2 separate regions of the Homo sapiens genome follow, and region 1 is linked to region 2. Evidence: fine-mapped expression QTL. A gene starts in region 2. The other region holds a variant in brackets. All regions are shown on one strand. Distances are from middle to middle. Region 1 has its middle 9.1 kb from the start of ZNF671. Region 2 holds the start of ZNF586 (zinc finger protein 586).

What was found. PIP is the estimated chance that this variant, and not a neighbour inherited with it, causes the effect. A credible set is the group of variants that fine-mapping cannot tell apart.
Region 1: its variant is the best candidate, but not a certain one, in a credible set for the expression of ZNF586 in monocytes after LPS (Fairfax 2014, PIP 0.87).

What each region holds. Positions count from the first base shown.
Region 1 is chr19:57,734,027-57,739,406 of GRCh38, reverse strand. No RefSeq gene overlaps it. Among named protein-coding and RNA genes, the nearest start is that of ZNF671, 9.1 kb to the right of the region's middle. The variant TG/G (reference allele first, on the strand shown) is at 3,127.
Region 2 is chr19:57,767,300-57,772,679 of GRCh38, reverse strand. It overlaps ZNF586 (zinc finger protein 586), which reads right to left and starts at 3,004. Exons shown (of 3, transcript NM_017652.4): 1 at 2,802-3,004. The coding sequence starts at 2,837. RefSeq lists enhancers at 2,770-3,019, 2,741-3,280.

The sequences.
Region 1 (5,380 bases), 33 kb after region 2:
CCACTGGTAAAGATCTTACAGTGGACTTTGTGAGGCTTAATATTTTCAGTCAGTAATGGAAGGAAGAATATTCAAAGAAGGTTTCAGAGGAAATATAGAGGAGAGGCATAAGGCAAGGAGAGGAGGTTGCACCATGTCTCCAGGTCCCTCAGAGTATGTCTCAACCTCAGAGCAGAACTGGTTCCTTCTGATTGTAACACTCTGTAGGGACCAGCCCCACAGGGTCGGTGGGTCTCTCCCTGTGTGCGGTGACGAGAGAGTGTAGAAATAAAGACACAAGACAAAGAGATAAGAGAAAAGGCAGCTGGGCCCGGGGGACCACTACCACCAATGCGCGGAGACTGGTAGTGGCCCTGAATGTCTAGCTGCACTGTTATTTATTGGATACAAAGCAAAAGAGGCAGGGCAAAGAGTGTGAGTCATCTCCAATGATAGGTAAGGTCATGTGGGTCATGTGTCCACTGGACGCGGGGCCCTTCTCTGCCTGGCAGCCAAGGCAGAGAGAGAGAGGGAGAGAGAGAGACAGCTTACACCATTATTTCTGCATATCAGAGACTTTTAGTACTTTCACTAATTTTGCTACTGTTATCTAGAAGGCAGAGCCAGGTGTACAGGATGGAACATGAAGGTGGACTAGGAGCGTGACCACTGAAGCACAGCATCACAGGGAGATGGTTAGGCCTCCGGATAACTGCGGGTGGGCCTGACTGATGTCAGGCCCTCCACAAGAGACGGAGGAGCAGAGTCTTCTCTAAACTCCCCCCGGGGAAAAGGGAGACTCCCTTTCCCGGTCCGCTAAGTAGCGGTTGTTTTTCCTTGACACTAAGGCTACCGCTAGACCAGACTTCCCAGATGCTGGCATCACCGCTAGACCAAGGAGCCCTCTGGTGGCCCTGTCTGGACATAACAGAAGGCTCGCACTCTTGTCTTCTGGTCACTTCTCACTGTGTCCCCTCAGCTCCTATCTCTGTATGGCCTGGTTTTTTCTAGGTTATGATTATAGAGCGAGTATTATTATAATACTGGAATAAAGAGTAATTGCTACAAACTAATGATTAATGATATTCATATATAATTACATCTATGATCTAGATCTAGTATAACTCTTGTTGTTTTATATATTTTATTATACTGGAATGGCTCATGCCCTCGGTCTCTTGCCTCAGCACCTGGGTAGCTTGCTGCCCACAACACTCACCTGGGAATAGTTGGTATTTACTAATTCACATTTACAAAACCGTGGCTGGAGTGTCAGCATTCCTGCCATGGGGAAAGTGGATATTTGAACCCTGAGAAAAGATTCTGGGTACAATAATCTCACCTTCTTGCTGGGAAGGAACTATCATTTCAGCAGTAAGTACAATGATAGTTTCGGCATGGGGACTGGAGATTACCTCTGGAAAACAGCTTGGACTGAGAAAATTAGTTAATATTGTGGATAAATGAAGTTACCACTGAGAATGACATAAGTAGCTAGAAAAGTTTCTGTGAAGTCTGAGAACACATAAATCTCAATGGATAGTGAGCAGAGGACATGGGGCTGTAAGTTCTGAGATAATTAAGTGGAGCCCATGGCTATCCTAGAGACTTGACTAACATGAAATTCTTATTTCTACAAAGTGTGTATTATTTCAATTTCTGAGAACTCAGGAAAAACCAACTGAGAGCCAAGGAAATAGTAAGGTAAGACTAGAAAGATGTCATAGAACAGAAAGAAAGCGATGGTGGCATCATATTGATTCAATGTCTTGGAATCTGCATCTTGTCACCTGGGGACACATTCTTTGATACAAAATGGAGGACCAGCTCATAGCTCCTGTGGTATTGAAAAACAAGTACTCCGGCCAGGCGTGGTGGCTCACGCCTGTAATACCAGCACTTTGGGAGCCCGAGGCGGGCGGATCACGGGGTCAGGCCATCGAGACCATCCTAGTCAACATGGTGAAACCCAGTATCCACTAAAATACAAAAAAATTAGCCAGGCGTGGTGGCGCACTCCTGTAGTCCCAGCTACTTGGGAGGCTGAGGCAGGGGAAATCACTTGAACCTGGGCGGAGGAGGGTGCAGTGAGCCGAGATCGCACCACTGCACTCCAGCCTGGTGACAGAGCAAGACTCCATCTCAAAAAAAAAGAAAAAAGAAAAAAAAAGTATTCCTTACAGTAAAGGAATGATATCACTGAAGAATATATTAGGTTCAAATATGTCTTTGTTTTACTTTTTCTTATTTCTTATTGAAATGGAAATAGAAAAAAAATTATTTTAGTATCAGGGTAATACCAACCTTGTATGATGAATTTAGAAGTATTTTCTCCTCCTCTTATTTTTGGGAATAGTTCGAGTAGGATTGGGGTTAGTTCTTTAAATGTTTGGTAAAATTCAGTAGTGAAGCCATTGGGTCCCAGGCTTTTCTTTGCTGGGAAAATTTTTATTACAGCCTCAATCTCATTGCTTGCTATTTGTCAGTTCAGGTTTTGGATTTCCTCATAATTCATCTTGGTAAGTTATATGTGTCTAGGAATTTGTCCATTTTTTCTATAATTTCCAATTTTTGGCATACAGTTGATCATAGTAGCCTCTAATGATCCTTTGAATTTCTGCAGTATTGGCTGTAAAGTCTTCTTTCTCACTTCTATTTTATTTGGTTTATCTTTCTTAGTCTGGCTAAAGGATTTTTTATTTTGTTTACTTTTCAAAAAACCAATTTCTCGGCCGGGCGTGGTGGCTCACGCCTGTAATCCCAGCACTTTGGGAGGCCGAGGTGGACAGATCACGAGGTCAGGAGTTCGAGACCAGCCTGACCAACATGGCAAAGCCCCGTCTGTATTAAAAATACAAAAATTAGCCGGGCATGGTGGTGGGTGCCTGTAATCCCAGCTACTTGGGAGGCTGAGGCAGGAGAATTGCTTGAACCCAGGAGGCAGAGGTTGCAGTGAACAGAGATCCTGCCATTGCACTCCAGCCTGGGTGATAAGAGCAAGACCCCATTTCAAAAAAAACAAACAAAAAACAAACAAACAAAAAAAATCATTTTGTTGAACACATTTGTATTGTTTTCTTTGTTTCAGTTTCATTTATTTCTGCTCTAATCTTTATTATTTTATTTTCCTTTTTTTTTTTTTTTTTT[TG/G]AGACAGAGTCTTGTTCTGTTGCCCAGGCTAGAGTGCAGTGGCGTGATCTTGGCTCACTGCAACCTCCACCTCCCGGGTTCAAGCAATTCTCCTGTCTCAGCCTCCTGAGTAGCTGGGACTACAGGTGCCTGCCACTACGTCTGGCTAATTTTTATATTTTTAGTAGAGATGGAATTTCACCTTATTGGTCAGGCTGGTCTCGAACTCCTGACCTCCGGTGATCCACCTGCCTCAGCCTCCCAAAGTGTTGGGACTGCAGGCGTGAGCTACTGCGCCCAGCTATTTATTTTCTTCTACTCACTTTGGGTTTGGTTTGCTCTAGCATCTCTAATTCTTTAAGATGCATTATTAGGTTGTTTATTTAAAGTTTTTTTTTTTACTTTTGTAATGTAGGCACTTATAGCTATAAACATTCTTCTTAGTACTTATTTTTCTGTATCCCACAGATTTTGGCATGCTGTGTTTCTATTATCATTTGTTTCAAAAAACTTTTCTTTTCTTTTTTTTTTTTTTGAGACAGAGTCTTGCTCCATCATCCAGGCTGGAGTGCAGCGGCGCAGTCTCGGCTCACTGCCACCTCCACCTTCTTGGGTTCAAGCAATTCCTCAGCCTCATGAGTAGCTAGGACTACAGGCGCCCGCCACCATGCCCGACTAATTTTTGTATTTTTAGTAGAGACATGGTTTCACCTTGTTGATCAGGCTGGTCTCGAACTCCTGACCTCAGGTGATCCACCTGCCTTGGCCTCCCAAAGTGCTGGGATTACAGGCATGAGCCAATGCGCCTGGCCTCAAAAAACTTTTCAATTTCTTTCTTTTTTTTTTTTCTCTTTGAGATGGAGTCTCACTCTGTCTCCCAAGCTGGAGTGCAATGGCGCAATCTCCACTCACTGCAACCTCCACCTCCTGGGTTTAAGCAATTCTCCTGCCTCAGCCTCCTGAGTAGCTGGGATTACAGGTGTGTGCCACCATGCCCGGCTAATTTTTGTATTTTTAGTAGAGACAGGGTTTCATCATGTCGGTCAGGCTGGTCTTGAACTCCTGACCTCGTGATCCGCCTGGCTCCACCTCCCAAAGTGCTGGGATTACAGTCGTGAGCCATCATGCCCAGCCCAACTTCTCAATTTCTTAATTGACCCACTGGTCATTCAGAAGACGACTGTTTAATTTCCATGTGTTTGTAGCATTTTGAAAGTCCACTTGTTACTGATTTCTACTTTTATTGCCTTGTGGTCAGAGAAGGTACTTGATATTATTTCAATTTAAAAAAGTTTCAAGACATATTTTATGGCCTAACATATAGTATTTCTTTGAGAATGATCCATGTGCTGAGAAGAATAGGTATTCTGAAGCTGTTGGATGAAATGTTCTATAAATATCTATTAGGTCCATTTGTTCTATAGTGCAGATTAAGTCCATTTCTGTCTGGAAGGCCTGTTCAATGCTGAAAGTGGGGTGTTGTCATCTTCAGCTATCACTGTGTCAGACTCTATCTGTCTCTTTAGCTCTAATAATATTTACTTTTATATCTGGGTGCTCCAGTGTTGAGTGTATATATATTTACAAAGATTATGTCCTCTTGCTGAATTGATCCCTTTAGCATTATATATAATGACTTTGTCTCTTTTCACAGTTTTTCTCTTGAAATCTATTTTTCTGATATACATGTAGTTATTCCTGCTATTTCGTCGTTTCCAGTGGCATGAAATATCTTTTTCCATCCTTTTATTTTAATCTATGTGTGTCTTTATAGGTGAAGGGTGTTTCTTGTATGCAATAGAGCATTGGGTCTTTATTTTTATTCATTCAGCAACTCTGTGTGTTTTGATTGGAGACTTTAGTCCATTTATATTCAATGTTTTATTAATAAGTAAGGATTTACTGCTGCCATGTTGTTTGGTGGTCTTCTCTTCCTTCTTTCCTTCCTTCCTGTCTTCCTTATTGTGAAGGTGATTTTCTCTGGTTGTATATTTTAATTTCTTTTTAAAAAATTTTTTGGTATCTGTTGTAGGTTTTTGAATTTAGTTTACCATGAAGCTTCCATGGTAAACTATATCTTATAACCCATTATTTTAAACTGATGACAACACTGATCCCATAAACAAATAACAAACAAGAGAAAAACTAATAAAAACATTACACTTTAACTATGTCACCCAGCTTTTAAATTTTTTGTTTCTATGTATATCTTATTGTACTGTCTATGTCTTGAAAACTTGTTGGAATTGTTTTTGATAGGTTCATATTTTAGTC
Region 2 (5,380 bases):
CCCCTTATGCATCTCTTCATCTGTAACCTTTGTAATAAATACTCTTTAAAATAAACTGGCAAATTAAAGCATCTCCTGAGGTTCTGTGACTGGCTCTAGCAATTTAATGGAAGCCGAGGAAGGGGTCATGGGAACCTGATTTTTATCAAGTCAGTCAAAGGACAGGTAAAAAAAAAAAAACATCCTGGGGCTTGTGATTGGCATCGAAAGGGGTTGGCGGACAGTCCCGTGGGACTGAGACTTCACCCTGTGGGATCTGATGTCCACTGCAGAACTACTTGGTGTATGAGGAAAACCATCCACACATTATCTAGTCACAGAAGTACTCTGTGTTGATTGTTGTGGGGGAGAGCAGAGCAAAAGCAATTTGTATTTTTTTCCACGCAGAATGGCCAAAACAAACCTCCTGATAGCCTCAGTGAATATTACACCTGCTATCAACTTGCTCATCTCAGTTGATGCAGCTCCCATTGCTACAGCTGCTAAGATAAAAAACCCAGGGGTGTTTCCTGAATCCTCTCAAGCTCTCACTGTTCACATTTAAAAATTGAGTTGCCAGGCTGGGCACGGTGGCTCAAGCCTGTAATCCCAGCACTTTGGGAGGCCAAGGCGGGTGGATCACGAGGTCAGGAGTTCGAGGCAGCCTGGATAATATGGCGAAACCTAGTCTCTACTAAAAATACAAAAATTAGCTGGGTGTGGAGGCGCGCGCCTGTAATCCCAGCTACTTCGGAGGCTGAGGCAGGAGAATCGCTTGAACTCAGGAGGCGGAGGTTGCAGTGAGCCAAGATTCCACTATTGCACTCCAGCCTGGGCAACAGGTCCAGACTCCATCTTGGGAAAAAAAAAATTGACTTGCCCCTCTAAAAAACACAAATCCAGATCTAGCCACATTGCCTAAGCCACAACTCTAGTCCATTAATCCTCACCTCGACTAGGGCAGTAGCTTCCAGTTTGATCTTCCTCCTCCCTCAACCCCACAGTCTGTTGCCCACTCAGTAACCAGACAGCGCCTATTAAGAAATTGGTAACATCACCTCACCCCTCTAGTTTCACTTCTAAGTAAGTATTTGCACACCCCAGTATCAGTTCCTGGGTGAACCCTCCACATGTGTTACATTAGTTGACAGACATAGCAACAACTCCCCATAACCTATGTCACTGATGTAGGTTTGGGGTTTGAGGTTTTTCCAAGATCCCCAGATTGAAGGACCGGAGAAATGGCACTTAAGTGTCCTAGGAGGTGCGGTAGTTCCTGCTTGGCATCCCAGCACTTTGGGAAGCCGAAGCAAGAGGACTGCTTGAGCCCAAGGGTTCGAGACTAGCCTGGGCAACATGGCGAAACCCCATCTCTCTCTCTCTCTTTTTTTTTTTTTTTTCAGACGGAGTCTTTCTCTGTCGCCCAGGCTGGAGTGCAGTGGCGCGATCTCGGCTCACTGCAACCTCTGCCTCCCGGGTTCAAGCGATTCTCCTGCCTCAGCCTCCCAAGTAGTTGGGACTACAGGTGTGTGCCACCAGGCCTGGCTAATTTTTTGTATTTTTAGTAGAGGGGGGATTTCACCGTGTTAGCCAGGATGGTCTCAAACTCCTGACCTCGTGATCCGCCCGCCTCGGCCTCCCAAAGTGCTAGGATTACAGGCGTGAGCCACCGCGCCCGGCCGTGAAACCCCACCTCTACTAAAAATACAAAAAGCCAGTTACTCGGGAGACTGAGATGAGAGGCTCTCCTGAGCCCGGAGAGGTCGAGGCCGTGCTGCGCCGTGATCGCGTCACCGCAACCCAGCCTGGGTGTTGAGTGAGAACCCGTCGCCGAAAAAAAAAAAAGATGCCAAGATCTAGACATGTGGGATAGGATGAGGACCAGTGAAGGACTAGAGCATCCCCTACTTCCTACTGTGGATTCTGTAAGTGCTTCTGTAGCCATGAGGTGTGCCAAAAGGCAGGGCTTTCACAAATGTGTCTGTGCTCGGATTTGATAGACTCAGGCTTCTCTGTAAGCTTTTTTTGGCCCTGCAGCCAGATGACTTCAGACTGAGTCTCTAATCTTGTGGCCCAGTGCTCAATGTCACCTCTCAATGATTCAACCTCTCAATGTCCTCATCACTGCCTTCAACTCTGTTCTTCCTTCGAACATCTTTTGGGAATCGCAACTCTAACACAGATTTCCTCCTTTGTTCAAAACTGTCCATGGCTTTTAGCGTCCTCACAGTCAAAGTTCAACCCTCAGCCTGGTACTGAAGAAACAACTCCGCCTCGGCCAGGCGCGGTGGCTCACGCCTGTATTCCCAGCACTTTGGGAGGCCGAGGTGGGCGGATCACCTAAGGTCAGGAGTTCGAGGCCAGCCTAGCCAACATGGTGAAACCCCGTGGTGGCGCATGCCTGTAATCCCAGCTACTCGGGAGGCTGAGGCAGGAGAATCGCTTGAACCGGGGAGGTGGAGCTTGCAGTGAGCCGAGATCGCGCCACTGCACTCCAGCCTGGGCGACAGAGTGAGACTCCGTCTCAAAAAAAAAAAAAAAAAGAAATAACTCCGTATCACACTTCTTTCCCAGTAGACACACGATGTCCCCGTGTTCCGCATCCTCCTGCCTCAGTCGCGCCTGCAGGCCTTTGCCCTCCGCCAGTCTCGCTCTGCCGACCGCATCAACTGGGTGTCGGAAACAGGGATCCCACCCGCCGGCGCCTCTCCGTCCCTGACAGAGGCCTGGGCTGCAGGGACGCGAGGAGGCGGCCCTCACGATCAGGGGCCTCAGGGTCTGGGTGGGTAGGGTGGGTAAGGCCCGGAGGTCGCAGCGCTCACCTGAGCAGGCGCCCTCAGAGCGGCTGCTGCCGCCATGACTCTGGGCGGGGGGGGAACGCGGGCTCGGCGGTGTTCCTGTCGTTGTCCTGTCCCGGGTCGCGACCAGCGGCGTCGCCGAACCTCAGATCCGCCTGTGTGCAATGGCCACAACCACTCCTCCCGAGCTCGTCCAGACCCAGCATCGCCGGATGGACCTGACAGGCCAAAATGGCTGCCACGGCTAGGACGCCGGAAGTCCTGGCTTGACTTTACGTGCCCCGGCAATGGCACGGCTTCTCTGAAGCTTCATTGGCTCAGCCACGTTACCATTTCGCAGGGCGGATTCTGGGTAATGTAGTTCCCAGACATGGGCAGCGCTTAAGGTGGCTTTCTTCCGACTTTCCGAAGAAAGGGGCAAGCTCCACTGCGAGGGGCGCTAGGAAATGGCGACTCCAGGTCCAGATGCGGAGGAGGGTCTCCCATCTTAGAAGAGGCCATACGCACATTTCTGGGGGTACTGTGTGCAACTGATTGCCCGCGTGTTTGGAGACTTCTTATTTCAGAATTTGTGATGCTCGGCTTCTTCCTTTTTTTTTTTTTTTTGTCTTTTTTTTAAGACATAGTTCTCTCTGTCACTCAGGCTGGGGTGCAGTGGTGTGATCTTGGCTCACTGCAGCCTATGCCTCCCGGGTTCAAGCGATTCTCGTGCCTCAACCATCCGAGTAGCTGGGATTACAGGCGTGTGCCACCATACCCTGCTAATTTTTGTATTTTTAGTAGAGACGGGGTTTCCTCATTTTGGCCAGGCTGGTCTCGAACTTCTGGCCTCAAGTGATCTGCCTGCAATGGTCTACCGAAGTGCTAGGATTACAGGCGTGAACCACCGTTCTCAGCCCATTAGCAACACTTTTATTTATATCTTTAACCTACAGATTCCTCTAGAAATCTGATATCAACATCAAAAAGCTAATGAGACAAATGCTATTATGTTACAGGACAATGGCTGCGGTGTTCAAACATGGAGTATGTATGCATGAGAGAAGAGAGAGACCCTCTCACATTGTTTTATATTCAGTAAAAACAACAAGGAAGTAAAACCAAAGACAGGCAACCCCGCGCCAGGCCCGAAACCAGGCCTAGGCCCGCCTGGCCTAAACCCAGTAGTTAAAAATCAACTTATGATTTAGAAGCCGATGTTATTCATAGATTCCTTAGATTGTATAGAAGAACATTGTGAAACTCCCTGCCCTGTTCTGTTCCTCCCTGACCACCGGTGCATGCAGCCCCTGTCACATACCCCTTGCTTGCTCAAATCAATCACGACCCTTTCATGTGAAATCTTTAGTGTTGTGAGCCCTTAAAAGGGACAGAAATTGTGCACTCCGGGAGCTCAGATTTTGAGACAGTAGCTGGCCAATGCTCCCAGCTGAATAAAGCCCTTCCTTCTGCAACTCGGTGTCTGAGAGGTTTTGTCTGCGGCTCGTCCTGCTACATGCACAGGGTGCTTTTACACTGAGATATTTCAAGTGCCTTAAATCCATGCGTTCACCTCTTTGCTGGCAAGTGCTTATCATTGTCAGTGGCATTGGAATCAGAGTGACTCCATCTTGAAAATGGGCTGGATAAAGTAAGGCTGAGAAATACTCGGCTGCATTCCCAGGTTAGGCATTCTTAGTCACAGGATGAGATAGGAGGTTGGCACAAGATGCAGGTCACAAAGACCCTGCTGATAAAACAGGATGCAGTAAAGAAGCTGGCTAAAACGCACCAAAACCAAGATGGTGATGAAAGTGACCTGTGGTCATCCTCACTGCTCATTATACGCTAATTATAATGCATTAGCATACTAACTCCCGCCAGCGCCATGACAGTATACCAATGCCCTGGCAATGTTTGGAAGTTACCCTATATAGTCTAAAAAGGGGAGGGAACCTCAGTTCTGGGAAATCTCCACCTCTTTTTTTTTTTTTTTTTTTGAGATGGAGTCTCGCTCTGTCACCCAGGCTGGAGTGCATTGCTGCGATCTCGGCTCACTGCAACCTCCGCCTCTTGGCCAAGTTCAAGTGATTTTCCTGTCTCAGCCCCCCGAGCAGCTGGGATTATAGGCGCCTGCCACCGCGCCCAACCTGTAAAATTTTCTATACTTAAAAAAAAAGTTGGCTGGGCGCGGTGGCTCACACCTGTAATCCCAGCACTTTGGGAGGCCGAGGCGGGCGGATCACGAGGTCAGGAGATCGAGACCATCCTGGCTAATATGATGAAACCCCGTCTCTACTAAAAATACAAAAAAATTAGCTGGGCGTGGTGGCAGGCGCCTGTAGTCCCAGCTACTCCGGAGCCTGAGGCAGGAGAATGGCTTGAACCCGGGAGGCGGAGGTTGCAGTGAGCCGAGATCACGCCACTGCACTCCAGGCTGGGGGACAGAGCGAGACTCCGTCTCAAACAAACAAACAAACAAACAAACAAAAAAGTTGGCCGGGTGCGGTGGCTCATGCCTGTAATCCCAGGACTTTGGGAGGCAGAGGTGGGCGGATCACGAGGTCAGGAATTCGAGACCAGCCTCACCAACATAGTGAAACCCCGTCTCTACTGAAAATAGA